3 separate regions of the Homo sapiens genome follow, and regions 1 and 3 are each linked to region 2. The links come from fine-mapping of genetic effects on gene expression. A gene starts in region 2. Each other region holds a variant in brackets. All regions are shown on one strand. Distances are between the middles of the regions.

Region 1 (8,183 bases), 25 kb after region 2:
AAGCCACTGTGCCCAGCCTAACACCTATATATTCTGATTATAAATGTTCTGAGAGAAGTTGTTAAAAAACAAAATATAGAAAACTTATTACTATAGGCAATACAACTTTTATGAGTACCTGTTGAGTAATTTATGCTACAATTTTGTTTTATCTTTCTGCCAGTCAGCAAATCACATGAACAGTTCCCTGCTGTCTTTATATCGGAAAGGAAATCCTGATTCTGTTTCAAATACTCCTGAGATGGAGCAAAGAGAAACCACCTCTTCAACACCACGGATAAGTTCCAAAACAGGCTCCATTCCCTTGAAGACCCCTGCCAAAGATTCTGAAGGAGGATGGTTTATTGACAAAACCCCAAGTGTAAAGAAAGACAGTTTTTTCTTGGACCTGTCATGTGAGAAAAGTAATCCTAAGAAGCCAATAACTGAGATACAGGTATTTTTGTAATGAAATTTTAGCCCCATATCATCGAAGTACATTTCAACCTTTTAGTTGAATATAATATCAATCAGATACTTGTGTTTTGTGGAAGGCATAGGAACTTTAAAATATATGGAGAATTTGATCACATTGCACTGCTTTCCATTCTTTCTATCCTAGTCTAAGCCTTTTCTCATTCTTGACTTAATTATTGAAACAGCCTTCTAGCTGGAGTCTGTGTCCTTTCTTGTTCCCCTAGTTTATTCTTTACACAGAGAGATAGCTTTTTTTTTTTTTTTTTTTTTTTGAGACTGGGTCTGGCTCTGTCGCTGAGGCTGGAGTGCAGTGGTGTGATCTTGGCTCATTGCAACCTCTGCCTTCCAGGCTCAAGCCATCCCCCACCTCAGCCTCCCATGTAACTAAGACTACAGGCATGTGCCACCACACCTAGCTAACTTATATCTTTTCTAGAGATGGTGTTTTGCAGGGTTGCCCAAGCTGGTCTTGAACTCTTGGGGTCAAGCAATCCACCCGCCTCGGACTCCCAAAGTTCTGGGATTGTAGGCGTGAGCCACCACATATTATCATTCTTCTATTTAAAACCCTCCAGTGGCTTCATTCAGTTTCAAATCCAAAGGCCTGTGACAGCCACTAACGTCCTTTATGATTTCGCTGCCTGACTTTCTTTTCAGTTTCATCTCCTACCACCCTGTTAGGTATGTGAATCTATTTCCTCAGCTGTAAATTTTACAAACTCTAAGTACAAATCAGGTGTTTCCCATGAAAATTTAGGGTCCAAATTGAGATGTGCTATTAACTTAAAGTGTACATTAGACTTTGAAGACTCACTAAAAAAATAGAATGTAAAACATCTCATTAATAATATTTTATATTGACTGTTGAAATGATAATATTTTGGATATACTGGGTTAAGTAAAATAGATTATTAAATGAATTTCATATGTGGCTCACATATTCCTCATGGACAATGATGCTTCAACTGATTTCTAAGAACCAAGCCCTTTGATTTGGCAGAACCTTTCCCCTTTTTATTTATTAATAGGCCTTTCCAAATCTCTTTGCTTTAATTATCCATATCATCCATCTATAGGGAACATTGTTATGGTTGGCAAGAACTCGAGTCTTAATGCTGAAATACTTTTTTTGGTTTGAGACAGGGTCTGCCTTGTCACCCAGACTGACATGGTGGAGTGGCATGATCACGGCTCACTATAACCTCCACCCCCTGGGCATAAGCCATCCCCCCACCTCAGTCTTCCAAGTAGCTGGGGACTACAGGTGCCCACCACCACACCTGGCTAAGTTTTGTATTTTTTGTAGAGATGGCGTTTGGCCATGTTGCTCAGACTGGTCTTGAACTCCTGAGCTCAAGTGATCCACCCACCTCAGCCTGAATCATACTTAAAAACAATTTTTTTTGGCCGGGTGCAGTGGCTCACACCTGTATTCCCAGCACTTTGGGAGACCAAGGCGGGCAGATCATGAGGTCAGGAGATTGAGACCATCCTGGCTAACACAGTGAAACCCTGTCTCTACTAAAAATACAAAAAGTTAGCCAGGCGTCATGGCGGGCGCCTGTAGTCCCAGCTACTTAGGAGGCTGAGGCAGGAGAATGACGTGAACCCGGCAGGCGGAGCTTGCAGTGCGCTGAGATCGTGCCACTGCACTCCATCCTGGGTGACAGAGCGAGACTCCGTCTCAAAAAAAAAAAATTTTTTTTTAAGAGTTGGAATATTGCTACATCACCCAGGCTAGAGTGCAGTCACTTTTCACAGGCTTGATCACAGAACACTATAGCCTTGAAACCCTGAGCTCAAGTGGTCCTTCTGCCTCTCAAGTAGCTGGGGCTACAGGTGTGTCCCAGTGTGCTTGGCTGAATTACACTTTGTTATGACTGTCAAAGCAGCTCTGTAGTTATATTTAATTTAGTGAATCATCAGCTGTCAGATGAAGACAACTATATAGAAGACTCAGTGAGAAATAAAAGGCAAATATCAGTGTCCTTAATCAAGGAGCTCACAATTCAGTGAGAAAGACAGAGATAAGTGAATCACTCATACAAGGCAGATTATTCCAACTGATAATAGCTGCAAATGCAGTGTCTTGGGAATGTGAGGACAAGATTAAATCTAACTGAAAGAGGGCCGTGCAGGGCGGCTCACGCCTGTAATCCCAGCACTTTGGGAGGCTGAGGTGGGCAGATCACCTGAGGTCAGGAGTTCGATACCAGCCTGGCCAACATGGCAAAACCCCATCTCTACTGATAATATAAAAATTAGCTGGGCATGGTGGTGGGCTACTTGGGAGGCTGAGGCAGGAGAATTGTTTGAACCTAGGAGGTGGAGGTTGCAGTGAGCTGAGATCGCGCTGTTGCACTCCAGCCTGGGTGACAAGACTGAAACTCTGTCTCAAAACAAAAACAAAAACAAACTCTAACTGAAAGAATCTGGAAAAGAAGCGGCATTCAAATGTTAAGATTTCTTTTTTCTTTTTTTTTTTTTCCCCATATGGGATGCTTCACAAATTTCCATGTCATCCTTGCACAGGGGCCATGCTAATCTTTGTATCATTCCAATTTTAGTATATGTGCTGCCAAGGCCAGCACCAAATGTTAAGATTTAAACTGAGCTTTAAGGGAATGAGGAGAAGGACTTTCACAATAGACAGCATCTTTGAGCAAAGAGATTGGGAATAGTTAACAGAGGTGAAAGTGCTAGGGCAGGAATGAATTTTCTTTACAATGCCCCTCTTTAAAAAGTAAAACAATTATTGGCATAGAATTTTAAGCATGGCATATTTAAATTTATTTTCTTTCCAGGATTCAAAAGATTCTTCTCTTTTGGAGAGTGATATGAAACGGAAAGGCAAGCTAAAGAATAAAGGAAGCAAAAGGAAGAAAGAAGATCTTCAGGAAGTAGATGGAGAAATTGAAGCTGTCCTGCAAAAGAAAGGTAAGGTGTGAGTCTTGTTGGTGGCAGTGGTCATGTTTGCAGTGAGAGAAGCATCATTCTGTCCCAAGCTATTTTGCTTGAGGGACCTTCTATGTGCAGAAATGTTTACCAGGAAATATTTCTATATTTAATGGACCTTTGTTTACTTAAAGACTATTCATTATAATTATGAGTTACTACTGAATCATTAATCTTTTCATCTCCTCATTTTTGTTTACCAGCTAAAGCCAGGGGGTTAGAATTCCAGATCTCCAACGTGAAGTTTGAAGATGTGGGAGGCAATGATATGACATTAAAAGTTAGTGCAAATTCTGAATTTTACCTCAAATGGATATATTACTAATCAGTTATGAGGAAAAAGCCTACCTCTTTGTTTCTAATATGATCTGGGTGTAGAAAAGGAAACTGGGAAGGTTGAGAAGGGCAAACCTGACCTGTACCCTTTAGGGCATTGCAGGAGAAAAGATGCATACTATTTTGAACTTTTCTATTATTTTAATTATAGTATATATAAGATCCATGCTTTATAAGTAATATTGTCTTAGCAATACTAATAGTAATGGTAACTTTATTTTTATTTATTTTTTATTTTATTTTATTTATTTATTTTGAGAAGGAGTGTAGCTCTGTCACCAGGCTGGAGTGCAGTGGCGCGATCTTGGCTCACTGCAACCTCCGCCTCCCAGGTTCAAGAGATTCTTCTGCCTCAGCCACCCGAGTAGTTGGGTTTACAGGCATGTGCCACCACGCCCAGCTAATTTTTGTATTTTTAGTAGAGACAGGGCTTCACCATGTTGGCCAGGATGGTCTTGATCTCCTGACTTCGTGATCTGCCCACCTCAGCCTCCCAAAGTGCTGGGATTACAGGCGTGAGCCACCAT[G/A]CCTGGCCGTAATGGTAACTTTATTTTTAATGCCTACTCTTTTTCATCTGCCATGCTAGTTAACTTTGCATTACATCCTCAAGGTATATAATGTTACAGCTTAGGAAATAGCTCCTCAGAGAGGTTATTGCTGAAATCACACAGTAGGTACCAGAGCCAGGATTCAAAGTCTGATCTAAGTCTAAGGTGTATATTCTACCTATCTACTCCATTTCACTGCTCCGAAAAATAGGACATTTCATTCTACTTTGATTGTTCTGTCTTGAAAGACATCTTTGTGCTTATCCTCTGCTAGGAGGTCTGCAAGATGCTCATACACATGCGTCACCCGGAGGTGTACCACCACCTGGGCGTCGTGCCCCCTCGTGGAGTTCTCCTTCATGGACCACCAGGCTGTGGGAAGACATTACTTGCACATGCAATTGCTGGGGTGAGGCTTGCTGACATTTGTTTGCTTTTGCTGTTTTTGTTGTTATTATTTGTTTTTGTTTTTTCTCTTTGGTCAACTTAAACCAGACATGGCATTCTTCAGGAAGAGAACATAGTCATTGGAACTGATCCCTTTGTTATCATGCTGGTATTATTTGTGGAATTTATTCATTTAGTTTATTTATTGTTTCTCACGAGCAACTTGAGGGATTTTTTTTTTTAATGTATGTAATTGTTTATATGGCAAGAGTTAGATAAAAAGTAAAATAATACAGTTTTTTTTTTTTTGGAGACAGAGTCTCACTCTGTCACCCAGGCTGGAATGCAGTGTCGTGATCTTGGCTTACTGCAACCTCCGCCTCCCGGGTTCAAGCAATTCTCCTGCCTCAGCCTCCCCAGTAGCTGGGACTACAGGCATACGCCACCACGCCCGGCTGATTTTTTGTATTATAGTAGAGACGGGGTTTCACCCTCTTGCCCAGGCTGGTCTTGAGCTCCTGAGGTCAGGCAGTCCACTTGCCTCAGCCTCCCAAAGTGCTAGGATTACAGGTGTGAGTCATCGCACCCGGCCATAATAATACGGTTTTAAACAAACCTTTTTATTAACACATAGCTTACATTTTAGTTACTTTGCTTTCCCTTTAACCCAATAGTTATTTCAGTTTACTTATTTTTTTGAGACAGAGTTTCACTGTCACCCAGGCTGGAGTGCAATGGTGCAATCATGGCTCACTACAGCCTCAACTTCCCAGGCTCAAGTGGTCCTCCCACCTCAGCCTCCCGAGTAACTGGAAACACAGACACATACCACCACGCCCAGCTTATGTTTTTGTTTTTTTGTAGAGACGAAGCCCACTATGTTGCCTGGCTGGTCTTAAACTCCTGGCCTCAAGCAGTCCTCCTGTCTCAGTCTTCCAAAGTGCTGGGATTACAGGCATGGGCCACTGCACCTGCCCTCCCAGTGGTTCTAAGGAGCAGTAAAATAAGAAAACTAGGGTTATATTATTTTTCATATAGCTAAATTTATTCAAAATTTTTATTTAGAGTCATGTTCTTATACTTTTTAGTTTTAAAATAATTCTTTCTAAAATGGTAATAATAGACACTTACTTTGAGAAATTAAAAGTTAGCAATCTTATTTTAACCCTCTCAGATTTTTCAGAAACTGTAGGGGACAGTAATGTAAAATATCCGAGTAACTTCGATTAGAAAAATAGCATGCTCGCCGGGCGCAGTGGCTCATGCCTGTAATCCCAGCACTTTGGGAGGCCGAGGCATGTGGATCACCTGAGGTCGGGAGTTCAAGACCAGCCTGACCAACATGGAGAAACCCCCATCTCTACTAAAAATACAAAATTAGCCGGGTGTGGTGGCGCATGCCTGCAATCCCAGCTACTTGGGGGCTAAGGCAGGAGAATCACTTGAACCTGGAGGCGGAGGTCGCGGTGAGCCAAGATCATGCCATTGCACTCCAGCTTGGGCAACAAGAGCCAGACTCTATCTCAAAAAAAAAAGAAAAAAGAAAAATAGCATGTTATACCAAGCGCTAATACAATAATGTTCTATGAAAGAAAATCATTTGTAAAGGGGGACTTGATTGGTTTGCTTCATTTTTGTTTAATAATTCCATTACATGACTGACTACTGCATGCCAGACTTTGGAATATAGTGTTAAGTACCACAATCGTAGTTCTAATATGAGAGAGACATTAAACAGTCATTCATATAAATAAATGCTGTACATAATAATGACTATAATAAATGGAAGACAAGAAGAAGTGCAAAATGGTATGTGGTATGTTAGGATTCCCAAATTAGAGTTGGGTTCAAGGAAGGTATGGTTGAGGAAGTGAAATTTCAAGATAAGCACAAGAATGGGAGAACAGTAGTCTCTCTTCTCTCTTTTTTTTTTTTTTTTTTTTTTTGAAACAGATTTTCTCTCTGTTGCCCAGGCTGAGTGCAGTGGCATGATCACAGCTCACTGCAGCTTTGACTTCTCAGGCTCAAATGATCCTCCTGCCTCAGCCTCACAGGTAACTGGGACTGCAGGCATGCATCAGCATGCCTGGCTAATTTATTATTTTTTTAGAGGTGGGGTCTCACTGTGTTGCCCAGGCTGGTCTCAAACTCCTCTCAAAGTGCTGGGATTACAGGCATGGGCGTCCACACCTGGCCTCTTCTTAAAGAGTCTCCCTCCTCTGACTAGTAACTGGCTACTCTCTGGGTTAGGATTTGGAGAAATACTAGCAGAATGTGTGGGAAACATCTGTGTCACAACCCTTGCTATTTTCTCCTTAGCAGATGGGTAAGAATTGTTTTGATAGGCCAGGAATGGTCACTCCTGTATCCCCAGCACTTTGGGAGGCTGAATTGGGAGGATGGCTTGAGGCCAGGAGTTTGGGACCAGCCTGGGCAACATAGTGAGACACAGTCTCTCCAAAAAAAACGAAGAATTGCTTTGGCTCAGCCCTAAGTGGGGATAACATACCTCTTGAAAGTCAAGACCCTTTATTCAGAAAAGATAATAGAATTTTATAGTGACATGTATAAAATAAAAACAAGTTGAAGGTATCCACTTAAATGTGTTTGCATGAAACCGTTGATTTTTTTTTTTTTTGAGATGGAGTTTTGCTCTTGTTGCCCAGGCTGGAGTGCAATGGCGCGATCTCGGCTCACTACAACCTCCGCCTCCCAGGTTCAAGCAATTCTTCTGCCTCAGCCTTCCCAAGTAGCTGGGATTATAGGCATGCACCACCATGCATGGCTAATTTTTGTATTTTTAGTAAAAATGGGGTTTCTCCATGTTGGTCAGGGTGGTCTCGAACTCCTGACCTCAGGTGATCCGCCCACCTCAGCCTCCCAAAGTAGTGGGATTATAGGCCTGAGCCACCATGCCCGGCCAAAACCATTGATTTTCAAATAGTGTTTTTCACTGGGCCAACATAAAAAGATGAAGTTCCTCAGGAAACTAGCTATTTAAAAAATTTGAGGGGACTGGATAAGAAAAAGTAGGGAAATTAAAATTTGAATATTTGGTTATTCTTTTATGTGTCTGCATAGGAACTTGACCTGCCAATTTTGAAAGTGGCTGCTCCAGAGATTGTGTCTGGAGTATCCGGAGAGTCTGAGCAGAAGCTGAGAGAACTATTTGAGCAAGCTGTGGTGAGTCAGTTAATGACTAATGCCAGGTGGTCAGACGCTACCAGCTTATATTAAAGATCCTGCTTTTTCTGATGCTAGTATTTGTTAACCCACTCACTGGCCATTCTTTTATTAATATAAACATGGTAATTTGCTATGCATGATGGCTAAATATTTAAAGTAGATTTAGTGATACCAGCTGTTGGATAAATAACCCTTTTCATTTGAAATCAAACATAAATGTAATTGGTGAGAAATTCTGGGCCGTCATACCCTGTAGTCATATGTTGAAAATATATTATCCTTATGATATTTTCCACTCACTTTTACTTTCCTCAA
Region 2 (8,183 bases):
GTTTAGGAGAAAGTGTGAAAGACAAAAGATAAAATACGCCACTACCACTAGGTGGGGTTACACCACCAAAGAATGGAGGATGCTTCAATTAAAAAAGGAAGTGCTTAAAGTGTATATGCACTTAGGTTACTGTTCAGTAATCTTTTTGGTTTTGATGCATGATATTGTAAATCCAAACATTGGAATCAATGTAAAATGGTCTTCAGGGCAATAATTGATGAAATAATTCCAACGAGAAATGTTCAAGCATATTATCATCTAGTATTAATTCACTTTCAATTATTGCCTTCTGCACCTGAAGCAGTAGTGAGATGAACAACACATTCCCTGCCTTTAAGAAGGAGGTGGCTGGGTGCAGTGGCTCATGCCTGTAATCCCAGCACTTTGAGAGGCCGAGACAGGCGAATCACGAGGTCAGGAGTTCAAGACGAGCCTGGCCAATATGGTGAAACCCTGTCTCTACTAAAAATACAAAAATTAGCTGGGCATGGTGGCATGCACCTGGAGTCCCAGCTACTTGGGAGGCTGAGGCAGAAGAATCGCTTGAACCCGGGAGGCGGAGGTTACAGTGAGCCAAGATCGTACCACTGCACTCTAGCCTGGCAATATAGTGAGACTCCACCTAAAAAAAAAAAGAAGAAAAAGAAGAAGAAGGCAGCATTCTAGAGTACTTCAAGTTTACATATGAATGGCTGGTTACATAATTTGTAAGACCCAGTGCAAAATGAAAATAAGGGACAGCTTATTCAGAAAGCATTTCAAGATGGCAACAGTACAGCATTAAACCACCTGTGGGGCCCTTCTGAGCACAGGGCCCTGTGTGACTGCAGAGGTCACATACCCATGAAGTCAACCCTAAGTGTAGGATAGTATTCTATGACAAATTATAGACTAATAAACTATATTGCCTAGTACATGTCATGATACTACTAGGCCTTTCAATGTGGTTGTTTATTTGTTCGTTTTTTTGAGATGGAGTTTTGCTCTTGTTGCCCAGGCTAGAGTGCAATGGCGCAATCTCAGCTCACTGCAACCTCTGCCTCCCAGGTTCAAGTGATTCTCCTGCCTCAGCCTCCCAAGTAGCTAGGATTACAGGCATGGGCCACCACACCCGGATAATTTTGTATTTTTAATAGAGACAGGGTTTCACCACATTGGTCAGGCTAGTCTTGAACTCCTGACCTCAGGTGATCCACCTGCCTCTGCCTCCCAAAGTGCTGGTAGTATAGGCATGAGCCACCATGCCTGGCCTCAGTGTGTTTTCATTCTATGTTGGACATTTGGCATGCACAGAATTACATTTCATTTTAAAAATTACTGAGCATTGACTACATTTGTACTATATGCTGTAGGGAATCTTTGCTAACATTTAATCAAGCACATAAATACCTAATCAAATTTTTTAAATGTTATAAAAAGTTAGTTATAATTCTTCCACTTTTCCCCACAAGCCTAAAGCGCAGAGCAGAGACTGAAACTGGTAGGCACTCAATAAACACTTGTTGAATGAATGCAAGAAGGCTGGAAAGTCCAATATCAAGGAGTTGTTATTTGGTGAGGGCCTTCTTGCTGTGTCATCCCATGGCAAAAGGCAGAATGGCAACAAAAGAGCCAAATTTTATTCAGCCTTAAAAGTGAAGGAAAGGCCAGGTGCGGTGGCTTATACCTGTAATCCCAGCACTTTGGGAGGCCAAGGCAGGTGGATCACCTCAGGTCAGGAGTTGGAGATCAGCCTGGCCAACATGGCAAAACGCCATTTCTACTAAAAATACAAAAAATTAGCCGGGTGTGGTGGTACACACCTGTAGTCCCAACTACTTGGGAGGCTGAGGTGGTAGAATCTCTTGAACCCAGGAGGCGAAGGTTGCAGTGAGCTGAGATTGCGCCACTGCACTCCAGCCTGGGCAACAGAGCAAGACTCTGTATCAAAAAAAAAAAAAAAAAAAAAAGAAAAGAAAGAAGGAAATTCTAACACATGCTATATGAGGGCATTAAGCTAAGAAACAAGCCAGTCACAAAAGTCAAATACTGGAAGATTCCACTTATATGAGGAAGTTAGTGTAGTCAAAATCATAAAGACAGTAAGTAGAATGGTAGTTGCCAGGGGCTGGGGGGAGGGAGGAATGGGGAGTTATTTTTTAATTAGTATAGAGTTTTAGTTGTACAAGATGAAAAGAGTTCTGGAACTAGATGGCAGTGATGGTTGCATATTATGAATGTATTATCACTAAACTGCACACTTTAAAATGTTTAAGATGGTGAATGTTCTTATATTTTACAACTAAAAAAATAAAAAATAAAACTACACATAGTGAAGAAGTAGGAAATGAAGTTGCAACCAAACGGATCAATATTTTGAGTGGGAAATCTAATACTTAATTCAGTGCTAATTTTTATATTTTTAGTAGAGACAAGGTTTCACCATGTTGGCCAGGCTGGTCGTGAACTCCTGACCTCAAGTGATCTGCCCGCCTCGGCCTCCCAAAGTGCTGGGATTACAGGTGTGAGCCACCGTGCCCGGCCTCACGCCCTTCTCTTAATTCCATTTTCTCTCCCCTCTGCCCCTTAATACACTGCACTTAACCTTGTCATAAGCCAAGGAGGACCTGAAATAAGAATACTCAAAACACGGTTGAAATAAACAAGAAGACAGAAACTAAAGCCAGCATTTTTTTTTTAATGCTTGGTAACTGTCCCTTTGTGTCTCCCTAAGTGCAGGATAAACTTCTTGGGGCAAATACAAACGTTTGATAAAATTCTGGGCCAAGGAGTCCTGCACTGGATATATTCAACAAATTACCTGCCGATGATAACAGCGTAAGTCAAACGAGTTCTAAAAGTAACAAATGACTTAGTTATCTGGATAAATCCGTCCTTCCTTTTCTTTTTCACCTAGCCCTTTTGTCGGGCCTCTAAAATGTAAGATAACTACGTGGGAAAGCAAGCAGCGGCTGGTGGTGTGTTTTTACCCTGATTTTATCACTCCAAGTATCTACCGTGGCTGGTTTTGCGAAGACTAGCTTTGTATCAGAATGAGGTGTGGCTGGAACGCCTGAGGAAAGCAAACCAAGTTTTCCAGAGGACGCCGTTGACAGCGTCTCCGCACACCGCGCCGGGGTAGGAACTTCCTCCCACCTGGTTCGCCCGGCGGGGAACCAATAAAGTTGAGCGCGTTCAAAGGGGTCCTAATCTTCCAGGGTCCACTGGGCAGGCCTGCAAAATAAGGCCCCTAGAAACTCCCTGAGGTTTTCAAGTCTTCTCCCTCTCCTCGGAATTTTTTCCCCTTCATTCGCATTACTTTTATTCTGACGGAAACGGCGCGGGCTAGGCCCCAGGAGGGGCGCATTTCAGGTGCAACTGGCCCGGCGATCGCGGCGGGCAACCCCTACGAGGCCCCCGGTTGACTAGGAGCTGGCGGTCCGAGCTGTGGCTTGGAAGACCGACGCGATGAAGCCCAGACCTGCAGGGTTCGTGGATAATAAACTCAAGCAGCGAGTCATCCAGGTGTGTATTCTGCACCGCTTGGCCTCGCCAAGGGCCCCGATCGCTGCCCCAGGGTGCCACTCCCCTTTTGTCGGGTGGCATCCAGGTGGAACTCAACTAGTCTTCTTTCCCCAGTCTGGGTCTGGGCGTGCGTCTGTTTCTCCTTAGTTGGTGCTGCCGGGGCCTTCCCTACCCACGTTGGTGCGGAGTCTCAGGGAGAAGCCGGGGATGGTGGGAGGGTGCAGCTTGGTAGGGCTGCCCAAGTTGTCTGGTCGTCTTCAGCGCAGATCATTCAGTAGAGTGGAGGTAGCCTTTGAATTTTAACCTCTTTGGCTTGTGAAGTTAGCACAGGAATGGTCTTCAAACGCTCGCATTGTAAGAGGTCCTTGAGAAGGGGTGGCATAAATAATATGTTAATTTCCGTTCTCAAGGAACTTACACACTAAAACGAGATAACATGGGTCTGGCAACAGTAACAGGCACTTTGCCTACGGTTTTCTCATTTTCATGACCATCAGTAAAAAGCAGTGTGTGGCAAATACCTCAGAATGTAAGCAAGCAGTCTGAGTTAAAAGGTGGGAGAGAATTTTCTTCACTTAGGAATTTGTGAGCTACACATTCTCCTTGTTTTTCTTTCACTTCACCAGCCCCTAAACAATCTCCTTTTCGGACCCATCTTTTCCTACCAACTTGTAAATGTTGGAAGTGCTCTGTGCCACTGTTCTCTTACCTCCCCTTCCTCCTCTTTCCTCATACACCTTTCTTATCTATCCATACTTCCTATGTGATCTCATTTAGTGTAATAACCTTTGAGTAGTATCTACATACTCTATTATCTATGTATTTATTTCATTTTATTTTTATTTTTCTGAGACATAGTCTCGCTCTGTTGCCCAGGCTAGAGTGCAGTGGCTGTTTATGGGCACAATCATAACTCACTGCACCCTCGGCCTCCCTGACTCAAGTGATCCTCCCTCCTCAGCCTCCCCAGTAGCTGGGACTACAGGTGTGCACCACCACACCTGGCTAATTTATTATTATTATTATTATTTGTAGAGACGGGGTTCCACTATGTTACTCTGGCTGGTCTCTAACTCCTGGGCTCAAGCGATCGGGCCTCAGCCTCCCAAAGTGCTGGGATTACCGGTGCAAGCTGCTGCACTGGCCTCTGTATATTTATGACTGCTAACTTTATATCTCCAGTCCAGATTTTATCTTGAAGTACAGATTGATATATCCAGCTGCCTAGTCAGCATATCTCCAAATTAAAATGGCCAAGTGGAATTTGTGATTTTTTTCTTCCTTCAAATCTGCCCTTTCTTAGTGTTCTGTATCTCAGTAAATGATACTACCGTTCGTCCTGTTGTTAAGGCCAAAAACCTTAAGGATCATTCTGAGTCTTTCATTTCCTGTATACCATCTGTCAACAGCCTGGTTGGCTTTACTTTCAAAATATATTCCAAGTACTTCTTACTGTCTTTCCCTGTAACCATCTTAGTCCAAACCATCATCTCTACCTTATACTATTACAATAGCCTCCTAACTGATCTCTCTGATTCTGCTTTTACCTAAAGCCTATTCCCCACAGAGCAGCCAGAGACATCTAATTTTTTTTTTTTTTTCTGCTCACTGCAACCTCTGCCTCCTGGGTTCAAGTGATTCTCCTGCCTCAGCCTCCCGAGTACGTGGGATTACAAGTGCATGCCATCACGCCTGGCTACTTTTTGTATTTTTAGTAGGGATGGGATTTCACCATGTTGGCCAGGCTAGTCTCGAACTCCTGACCTCAGGTGATCTGCCCGCCTCAGCCTCCCAAAGTGCTGGGATTACAGGCGTGGCCAAGACATCCTTTTAAAGGGAAAAATCGGGCTAGGGGAGGGATAGCATTAGGAAAAATACCTAATGTAGATGACGGGTTGATGGGTGCAGGAAACCACCATGGCACCTGTATACCTATGTAACAAACCCGCATGTTCTGCACATGTATCCCAGAACTTAAAGTATAACTAAAAAAAAGGGGGGGGAAATCAGAGCTTGCCATAGCCCTGCTCAAAACCTTTCAGTGGAGTCACAGACATCTAGAGTAAAACCCAGTCTGAAAAGCCCTGCATATTCTGGCCTCTGTTGTCCTAGTTTACTTTTCCTCTCCTGTCCCAGCCACACAGACCTTCTCAAACATGCCAAGCACAGGACCTTTGTTCTCGTTGTTCAGTCACTCTGAATTACTCTTCCTCTGGATGTTCCCGCGTCCCACAACTTGCTCCTTCACTTTATTGAGGTTTCTGAGCAGTGACTCCTAATTACTGGATCTAGTGGCCTCTTCTCTGTCCTCACACTTGACTCTTTTCAGCGTTTGACATTATCAGTTTTCCTCTATAGCTTTCACTTTGGTTCATTATAAAAGTACAAATGAATATCCCTTATTCTAAATGCTTAAGACCAAAAAATGTTTCAGATTGATTTTTTTCAGGTTTTGGAATGTTTGCATATACATAATGAGATATTTGGGGATGGGACCCAAGTTAAACATGAAGTTTATTTATGTTTCATATACACCTTACACACATAGCCTGAAGATAGTCTTACACAATATTTTAAATAAATTTTCACTTAGCTATATATTTAATTTAATTTTAATTTTTTATTTTTGAGACTGGGTCTAGCTCTGTCACCCAGGCTGGAGTGCAGTGGTGTGAACACTGCTCACTGCCATCTCAAACTCGTGGGGTCAAGTGATTCTCCCACCTCAGCCTCCCATGTAGCTGGGACCACAGGTATGCACCACCATGTCTGGCTAATTTTAAAATTTTTTGTAGAGATGAGATCTTACCACCTTGCCCAGGCTGGTCTCGAACACCTGGACTGAAGCAATCCTCCCGCCTTGGCCTCTCAAAGTGCTGGGATTACGGGTGTGAGCCACCACGCCCGGGCTTATTTATGTATTTATTTTTGAGATAAGGTCTCGTTCTGTTATCCAGGCTGGAGTGCAGTGGCTCGATCATAGCTCACTGCAACCTCTAAGTCTGGGCTTAAGCGATCTCCCACCTTGGCCTCCCAAAATGCTGGGAGTATAAGCACAAGCCACCACATCCAACCAACTTTTTAATTTTTTTGTAGAGATGAGGTCAAACTTTGTTGCCCAGGGTGGTCTCAAACTCCTGGGCTCCCAAAGTGTTGGGATTACAGATATGAGCCACCATGCCCAGCCAAAAGGTGATTTAATATTGAAACTAAATTGCCTCAAGCTAGTAGTTCTGCAGTATCTGACAGATGTCAAATATCACTGTGTTCCTTGAAGTTTAAAATATCCCCTCCTACCCTTATGAGTTTACTGCAGTGTTCTGGGGTGTTTGGAAACCTAGGATATTAGTAAGTAAGCCCTCACTTACTGCCTTATAACTATTCTGATAATTATTAGTATTGTATTATAGTGATTAATAATGTTAATTAAATTTTCTGATTTCATATTTGACAATTATTTGGTTACTTTTATTTATGTTTCTGGTACACTTTATTAACGAAGAGTTTATCTTAAAGTATAATGTGTTCAGATAGCTCAATCTGTTGATTAAAATCACTGAGTTTGAAATATTGGGTGTTTTGTATTTGTTATATTTTCTGTTTTAGTACCTTACCAGTAACAAATGTGGCAAATATGTGGACATTGGAGTCTTAGCGTCTGATTTACAAAGAGTGTACAGGTAAATAAATATAGTTTCCGGATCCTTGGATTTTTATGTCTCCTTTACCATTTTAAAAGTTTATATCCTGCCTAAATTTCCAGTTGATATCAGTAGCTGCTGGCATTAGTTCACCAATCCATAATCTTGGAACTCAATTCAGTTATGCAAACATTTATCAAATACCTATTATGTGCAGTAAAATGTCTTTTGTACTGTGGGAAATGGGTCACTGCTTATCTTTTAGTACCTGACAGTCTGGTCAAGAGATAGAGATGTTATTATATCACTTCCTTTCCTGCTACATTAGAAAATTAAAACCGGGCCAGTCATAATGGCTCATGCCTGTAATCTCAACACTTTGGGAGGCTGAGGTGGGAGGATGGCTTAAGCCCAGGAGTTTGAGACCAGCCTGGGCAACATGGTGAAACCCCATCTGTACAAAAAATATACAAAAATTTGCCAGGCTTGGTGGCATGCACCTGTGGTCCCACCTACTTGGGAGGCTGAGGTGGGAGGATCACTTGAGCCCAGGAGGTCAAGGCTGTAGTGAGCTGTGGTCACGCCACTGCACTCTAACCTCAGTGACAGAATAAGATCCTGTCCCAAAAAAGAAAGAAAATTAAAACCATCACCAGCAGGTATGATCTCCCTGAGTTTCCTGACTCCTTTCTTTTTGAGACAGAATTTCGCTCTTGTTGCCCAGGCTGGAGTGCAATGGCATGACCTCAGCTCACCGCAACCTCCGCTTCCCAGGTTCAAGCAATTCTCCTGCCTCAGCTTCCCAAGTAGCTGGAATTACAGGCATGTGCCACCACACCTGGGTAATTTTGTATTTTTAGTAGAGACAGGGCTTCACCATGTTGGCCAGGCTGGTCTCGAACTCCTGACCTCAGGTGATCCGCCCACCTTGGCCTCCCAAAGTGCTGGGATTACAGACGTGAGCCACAGCGCCCAGCCTCTTTTTTTTTTTTTTTAAATACAGTTTTTATTTTTATTTTTTGTGGAGACAGGGCCTTC
Region 3 (8,183 bases), 100 kb after region 2:
TGAACTCAAGGTTAGTCATAAGCATTTTGAAGAAGCTTTCAAGAAAGTAAGATCATCTATATCAAAAAAGGTAAGCAATGCCATTAAATGCATAGAGAAAGGAAACTAGAATTTTAGACCAGTAGATATGACCTCATGAATTAAACTCTTTTTTTTTTTTTTTGAGACGGAGTCTTGCTCTGTCGTCCATGCTGGAGTGCAGTGGTGCGATCTCTGCTCACTGCAAGCTCTGCCTCCCGGGTTCACACCATTCTCCTGCCTCAGCCTCCCAAGTAGCTGGGACTACAGGTGCCCGCCACCATCCCCGGCTAATTTTTTGCATTTTTAGTAGAGACGGGGTTTCACCATGTTAGCCAGGATGGTCTCGATCTCCTGACCTCGTGATCCGCCCGTCTCTGCCTCCCAAAGTGCTGGGATTACAGGCGTGAGCCACCGCGCCCGGCTGAATTAAACTCTTTTACAGATTGTTTTGTATACTACTTCTACTTCCTAAAAAGAAATTACATGGTTCATTTTGATCTGAAAACAAGCAAAATAATTGCCTTTGTGAGAATGTTCTTGAGAGATTTTAATTTTATATGTTTCTTAGGGACTAGAACACAGTTTTCCTAACTAGATTCTCTAACAACTTTATTCAGAAAGAGAATGACCTCTTCTGCCTCCACAATCTCAGATTTTTTTTTTATTTTTTTGAGACAGAGTCTCGCTCTGTCACCCAGTCTGGAGTGTAGTGGCATGATCTTGGCTCACTGCAACCTCTGCCTCCTGGGTTCAAGCGATTCTTCTGTCTCAGCCTCCTGAGTAGCTGGGACTATAGGTGCGCACCACCATGCCTGGCTAATTTTTTGTATTTTTAGTAGAGACAGGGTTTCACCATATTGGTGAGGCTGGTCTCAAACTCTTGACCTCGTGATCCACCCGCCTTGGCCTCCCAAAGTGCTGGGATTACAGGCGTGAGCCACTGCGCCCAGCCCACAATCTCAGAATTTTAATCATCTGATTCAAGTATTATTTGACCTACTCTACGCTTTTTGATAAATGGCTTTGTATTTCTTGGAGCTAGACTGTACCCAAACTAAGCCATAGGGACTTACCCATACATTTCAGGGAAATAAAAACATCTTCACCATAGGTGGGAGAAGGGTTAAAAAAAAATCACTCTGGAGCTGGGCACAGGGGCTTATGCCTGTTATCTCAGCTACTCAGGAGGCAGAGGTGGGAGAATGGCTTGAGCCCAGGAGTTCAAGATCAGCCTGGGCAACATGGTGAGACCCTGTCTCTACAAAAAAATTAAAACTTAGCCAGGCATGGTGTCATGCACCTGTAGTCCCAGCTACTTAGGAGACCGAGGCAGAAGGATTACTTGAGCCCAGGAGGTTGAGGCTACACTGAGCCATGATCACACCATTGTACTCCAGCCTCGGTTACAGAACGAAACCTTGTCTCAAAAACAAACAAATAAACACAGAAGAAAAAACACACTTCAAGTATTTCTTTGGGATGAATACACAGGAGTGGAATTGCCACCCAACATTTAAAATGTTAATTTGCCAGACGCGGTGGCTCACTTCTGTAATCCCAGCACTTTGGGAGGCTGAGGCGGGCAGATCACGAAGTCAGGAGTTCAAGACCAGCCTGGCCAATATAGTGAAATCTCATCTCTACTAAAAATACAAAAATTAGCTGGGCGCGCACCTGTAGTCCCAGCTACTGCGCACCTGTAGTCCCAGCTACTCAGGAGGCTGAAGCAGAAGAATCGCTTGAACCTGGGAGGCAGAGGTTGCAGTGAGCCAAGATTGCACCACTGCACTCCAGCCTGGGCGACAGATTGAGACTCCGTCTCAAAAAAAAAAATTTTTTTTTAATTTGACCACAGTGAGATTCTACTACACACCTACCACAATGACTAAAATTTAAAATATTGGCAACACTAAATGGTGGCAAGGATATGAAACAGCTGGAACTCTTTTTATTTATTTATTTATTTATTTATTTTTTTGAGACAGAGTTTCACTCTTGTTGCCCAGGCTGGAATGCAATGGCACAATCGCAGCTCACCACAACCTCTGCCTCCTGAGTTCAAGCTATTCTCCTGCTTCAGCCTCCCGAGTAGCTGGGATTACAGGCATGTGCCACCACACCCGGCTAATTTTTTGTATTTTTAGTAGAGACAGGGTTTCTCCATGTTGGTCAGCCTGGTCTCCAACTCCCAACCTCAGGTGATTGGCCCGCCTCAGCCTCCCAAAGTGCTGGGTTACAGGCCTGAGCCACCACGCCTGGCCTGGAACTCTTATACATTGTTGCTGAAAATGTAGATACAACCACACTGGAAAACATTCTGGCAATTTCTTTTTTTTTTTTTTTTTTTTTTGAGACGGAGTCTCGCTCTGTCGCAATGGCGCGATCTCGGCTCACTGCAAGCTCCGCCTCCCAGGTTCACACCATTCTCCTGCCTCAGCCTCCCGAGTAGCTGGGACTACAGGCGCCCGCCACCATGCCCAGCTAATTTTTTTGTATTTTTGTAGAGACAGGGTTTCACCATGTTAGCCAGGATGGTCTCGATCTCCTGACCTCGTGATCCACCCATCTCAGCCTCCCAAAGTGCTGGGATTACAGGTGTGAGCCACCGCGCCCGGCCCATTCTGGCAGTTTCTTATGAATGTTAATGTAGTGTAAGAAGCTTCTACTTTCCCGGCCTGGCGCAGTGGCTCACACCTGTAATCCCAGCACTTTGAGAGGCCGAGGCGGGTGGATCATGAGGTCAGGAGTTTGAGACCATCCTGGCCAACATGGTGAAACCCCATCTCTACTAAAATGCAAAAAATTTGCCGGGCGTAGTGGTGCGCACCTGTAGTTCCAGCTACTCAGGAGGCCGAGGCAGGGGAATCCCTTGAACCCAGGAGGCAGAGATTGCAGTGAGCCGAGATTGCACCGCTGCATTCCAGCCTGGGCGACAGAGTGAGACTCCGTTTCAAAAAACAAAAAAAGAAGCTTCTGCCTTTGCCTCCTTTCCATCTGGATTCAGTGTAGTTTAGAATTGTGCTTTCTTCACTAATTAGATAGACATAAGACTCTTGACCTGATTTTTTAGGAAAACTTGAGTCAACGATTGTGAATGTCATGGAGTCCCCTGTGGAAAGGAGCATGTGTAGGATTTAGATTAGGATTTAGATGCAGGAAGGTAAAATATCACCTCTCTTCAACAGTAAGTTAGTCAGCAGGAGCTACTATGACAAAGTACCACAGACTGGGTGGCTTAAAAAGTGGAAAATTTATTTTCTCACAGTTCTGGAGAGTGTTGGGCAGGATTGGTTCTTCTGGAGCCTTTGTCCTCACTGATGGCTGTCTTCTCCCAGCGCCTGCATGTGCTTTTCCCTCTGCGCACATGCTCTTCCCTCCTGTGCCCTAATCCCCTCTTTTTGTAAGGAGAGCAGTCATATTGGATAAGAGTCTACCTGTATGACCTCATTTTAATCCAGTCTCCTCTATAAAGACCCTCTCTCCAGTTACAATCACATTCTGAGGTCCTGCGGGTGCGGACTGCAGCATGTGAATTTTGGGGGGCACCATTCAGCCCAAAACAAGCAGTGACGGTCTCTGTATTCTGTGTTCTCCCTCCTTTCAGGATCAAATCATGTATGAACGTTTGCAGGAGTCCCTCAGCCGGTGATGTCTCCAGCAGCCGGCTTAGAGGAGCTAGCCCATCAAGC[C/T]GGCAGAGAATCCCCCACACGCTCTGAAGGACCCACTTTCAGCTGGACACAGGCGCGGCCTCATGTAAACATTTTATTTTCAAATGAATGAGGCCAAGCTGAAGCTGAAGCTGAAGATTCTTCCCATCTGGCCAGCCTTGTGTGAAAATGCCTTCTTCCTCTTTAAGAAAAAGGACAATTTTTAAACTGCTGAAATAAAATGACTGTTACATTTTTCAAATAAAACTTTTACTTTGAACTATTTTGACTATACAGAAAAGTTACAGAGATCTCCTCCCCCGCCTTCCACAACCATCTAGGAATAAGTGCCAACCTGATGCCCTATCACTCCCAAATACTGTCATGTGTATTTTCTACACTTGAAGATATTCTCCTACATAACCCACCATCAAAGTCAGGGAATTAATACATTGATACATCACTGCCATCTAATCCTCCTCCATTCACGTTCCTCTAGTTGTCCTGATAATGTCCTTTAAAACAGGTCCCTAACCCCCAGGTTGGAGACAGGTACCTATCTGTCTCCTGTTAGGAACCAGGACGCACAGTGGGAGGTTAGTGGTGGGCGAGCGAGCATTACTGCCTTAGCTCCACCTCCTGTTAGATCAGTGGCAGCATTAGACTTTCATAGAAGCGTGAACCCTGTTGTGAACTGTGCACTTGAGGGACCTAGGTTGTACCCTCCTTATGAGAATCTGATGCCTGATGATCTGAGGTGGAACAGTTTCTTCCTGAAACCACCTCCCCTGACCCTGTCTGTGGAAAAATTATCTTCCACGAAACCAGTGCCTGAGCCTAAAAGGTTGGGGACCACTGCTTTAAAAGGAGGCCACTGCAGTTAGTTGCTACATTCTTTAATCTCTTTTAAGCGTGGAACATTTCTTCAGGTTTGACTTTTGACACTTGTGAAGGTTTCAGGCCAGTTACTTTGTAAAATTCCTTGAGTGTGGATGTGTCTGATGTTTTCCTTGTGATTAGACTCAAGTTATGCATCTTTGGCAGATTACAAAGTGACACTGTGCGCTTGTCATGTGGCATGCGATTTCAGTTTGTCCTGTTACTCATGATGTTCACTGTGATCACTTGAGGTAGTTCTTCCAGGTTTCTCACACTACAAAGTTACTCTTTACTCTTTTTTTTTCACTTTGTAATGTATGTGTATTTTATGGGAAGTTACTTTGAAACTCTATAAAGTCCATTCCTCATCAAAGTCAAGTATTACTATTTTTAATATATTATCCATTATTATCATTATGATATTCAAACTGTCCCAGATTTGACTCTCCTTTGGCCTCTATATGTTTGATGAGTCCCTAGGCAATACTTTGTGAAGGGCTTGATTTTTGTTGTGTTCAACTCATAATTTACAGTGTTGCTCACAATATATCCGGAAGTTATATATAGATGGGTCGGGTTACCTACTTTTCTTTCTTCTTAAATTTTTACTTCACCTCATTCTACAAAAATTTTTAGGCTACTTTTAAGAATGTGGACCAGTCACAGTGGCACATGCCTGTAATCCTAGCATGTTTGGGAGGCCTAAGTGGGAGGATCACTTGAGTTCAGGAGTTCGAGAGCAGCCTGGGCAACATAGTGAGACCCCCCACATCTCTACAAAAAGAAAAAAAAATGTTACAAGGCCAGGCGTGGTGGCTTATGCCTGTAATCCCAGCACTAGGCCAAGGCGGGCAGATCGCCTGAGGTCGGGAGTTCTTGACCAACCTGGCCAACATGGTGAAACCCCGTCTCTACTAAAAATATGAAAATTAGCCGGGCGTGGTGGCAGGCACCTGTAATCCCAGCTACTCAGGAAGCTGAGGCAGGAGAATCGCATGAACCCGGAGGCGGAGGTTGCAGTGAGCCAAGATCGCACCACTGCACTCCAGCCTAGGCAACAGAGTGAGACTCTGTCTCAAAAAAAAAAAAAATTTACAAAAAGAATGTGGTGAAAAAATGTTACTAAAAGCAAATCAGGGTTACAAAGGTCAATAAAACAGTCTTTTTTTTTTTCTTTTTTTGAGACGGAGTCTTGCTGTGTTGCCCAGGCTGGAGTGCAGTGGTGCAATCTCGGCTCACTGCAACCTCCACCTCCCGGGTTCCTGCCATTCTCCTGCCTCAGCCTCCCAAGTAGCTGGGACTACAGGTGCCTGCCACCACGCCCGGCTAATTTTTTGTATTTTTAGTAGAGACGGGGTTTCACCGTGTTAGCCAGGATGGTCTCGATCTCCTGACCTTGTTATCCTTCCACCTTGGCCTCCCAAAGTGCTGGGATTACAGGCGTGAGTCACTGTGCCCAGCCAACACAGTCGTTTTTCTGAGGAGTTCGCAGAAGGATTCAGACATCTCAGCAGAGTATGACCATGCCCAGTGAAAGGGCATGAAGAAGAGGGTACCTTAGGACACCAGAAGAGGGAACACCAAAAAAGAAAAAAAAAGGCAAATCAGGATCACATACTAAAGGTAGGTGATTAAGAATGAAGGGAAGCCGGGTGCGGTGGCTCACGCCTGTAATTCCAACATTTTGGGAAGCCAAGGCGGGCGGATCACGAGGTCAAGAGATCAAGACCATCCTGATCAATATGGTGAAACCCCGTCTCTACTAAAAATACAAAAATTAGCTGGGTGTGGTGGCATGGCCTGTAGTCCCAGCTACTCGGGAGGCTGAGGCAAGAGAATTGCTTGAACTCAGGAGGCAGAGGTTGCAGTGAGCCGAGATCGTGCCACTGCACTCCAACCTGGTGACAGAGTGAGACTCTGTCTCAAAAAAAAAAAAAAAAGAATGAAGGGAAAATTGGAATATGCACCAGAAGGTCTTAAATTTGAGGAGCAGATTCAACTCTGCTTGACATCCACCCAATCCTGAGAAACACAGTCAGGTATATCATAGATGTGGGTTATGAGAAAAAGCAAAAATCTTCTTGACTATTAAATGTTAGGTCTAAGTATCCAACTTGCTGGTAGTTTAGCTTAACCTCGACATAAAATGTAGAACGCATAAGAGAGCAGACTGGCTGCGTGTTCGTTGGCTTTGCCAGTCAGGTATGGTACATGTTGAACAGCAGGCAGATACTGCGACAGGTAGTGTGACAGTGGATGTTGCCAGCACTTCTGCAAATGGAAGGGAAGATCATATTTTTCAGCATGATCTGTGTACTACACACTGCCAAATGTTATCTTAACGCTCCCAACTCATACTAGGGATCAAATAGAGTTATCCCCATATCATCAAAAAGAACAAGGTTCAGAGCCTGTTCAAGGGGACTCGCGGAACAGTCTGAATTCTGGTCTACAGCGGTCTAACTTTTCTTTCTCTTGTGAAAAAGATCCAGTCCTCTGTTCAGAAACTCCCGGAATTATGTCCTCTGTTCTAGCACTGTCAAAGATTTAGCCATTTCATTAAACACTTTGTACTGAGCATTACTAACATAATGGTGAACAAACTCAGAACTTAATGCCCAGTGTGGTGTGTGTGGCAGAGAGCTTATCGCCCTATAATGTCCATTCTTTTCTTCTACCTTTTAGTAAGAAGGGCTCTTGCTGCCAGGAAAGTGACTAACAAACATCTGGCTAGTATAATATAAACAGAAGCGATGGGAACAGCTTCTGGTTACATCCTTATAAGGAAGTGACTTGGGTTGCATTAACCCATCATTAACTCAGGGCAGCCTACATTGAACTCAACACACCTTCTCCCAGAAGCAAAGACCCTGGCTATGTCCTTGAAAAGTCATAACTTGTTTAAAAAAGAAGGTGCTACCTGTCATTTTAACTCCATGCTGCCCTTCCCGGGACTAGAGAGTGATGAGCTGATGATGAACCTGTTTTGGCCTTGTAAATGGAGACAACATCCTAGGGAATGACAAAGTAATAAAACACAAGAAACCAGGATCGTGGGCAACCCTTGCAGCAGAGTTTCCTCAACCCTCAGATGGTCATTTGCCTCACTTGTGTGTGTGATCTTTATATTGCTTAAGCTATTTATATTTTGGTCTGTGTGAAAGGAGCCAAATTCATATCCAACTTAATACAGATAAAGAGACAGTCACAAAACAGTGTGAGAAGGGCTGAAAAGGGATAAGAATAGTCACCAAGCGAAGAGCACAGGGTAGGAGCAGCTAGTCCATAATTGGAATTGGAAGGTTCTCCCAAGAATGCAATGTGTCAGCGGAATCCTGAAGGCAAAGAAGATGAAGGAAGGAGGTAAATGACCTGAGCAGAGAACAAAGGCCTGGATAAGGGAGGGGCTGGTGTCAGTGGGAAGAAGCAGGTGGTCTCTCATGTTTGTATGTAGGTTATTGCTGAAAACATGTCCAAGTAGTATTTACTGGAAGATCTTATTTCCAAAAGGTAAAAATGTTGTAAAATGCCTTATTACCCTAAAAAGTATAAGTAGATATAACTTAGGTAAAAGTATAGTATTCTATACTTTGTATCTGTCACTATTCTAGATCTCACTGTTTGAACTCAGGAACT

What was found. PIP is the estimated chance that this variant, and not a neighbour inherited with it, causes the effect.
Region 1: its variant is fine-mapped to the expression of NVL in whole blood (TOPMed, PIP above 0.99).
Region 3: its variant is fine-mapped to the expression of NVL in whole blood (INTERVAL, PIP 0.92).

What each region holds. Positions count from the first base shown.
Region 1 is chr1:224,300,244-224,308,426 of GRCh38, reverse strand. It overlaps NVL (nuclear VCP like), which reads left to right. Exons shown (of 23, transcript NM_002533.4): 6 at 164-436; 7 at 3,261-3,393; 8 at 3,615-3,691; 9 at 4,570-4,704; 10 at 7,764-7,865. It also overlaps the pseudogene RNU6-1008P. Among named protein-coding and RNA genes, the nearest start is that of NVL, 26 kb to the left of the region's middle. The variant G/A (reference allele first, on the strand shown) is at 4,275.
Region 2 is chr1:224,325,392-224,333,574 of GRCh38, reverse strand. It overlaps NVL (nuclear VCP like), which reads left to right and starts at 3,403. Exons shown (of 23, transcript NM_002533.4): 1 at 3,403-3,504; 2 at 7,111-7,184. The coding sequence starts at 3,448. RefSeq lists enhancers at 3,186-3,335, 3,356-3,405, 3,596-3,645, 3,696-3,835.
Region 3 is chr1:224,223,113-224,231,295 of GRCh38, reverse strand. It overlaps NVL (nuclear VCP like), which reads left to right. Exons shown (of 23, transcript NM_002533.4): 22 at 1-70; 23 at 3,626-3,951. The coding sequence ends at 3,670. It overlaps LOC101927164 (a long non-coding RNA gene), which reads right to left. Exons shown (of 3, transcript NR_110668.1): 2 at 7,468-7,882; 3 at 3,253-3,870. Among named protein-coding and RNA genes, the nearest start is that of MIR320B2, 30 kb to the left of the region's middle. The variant C/T (reference allele first, on the strand shown) is at 3,711.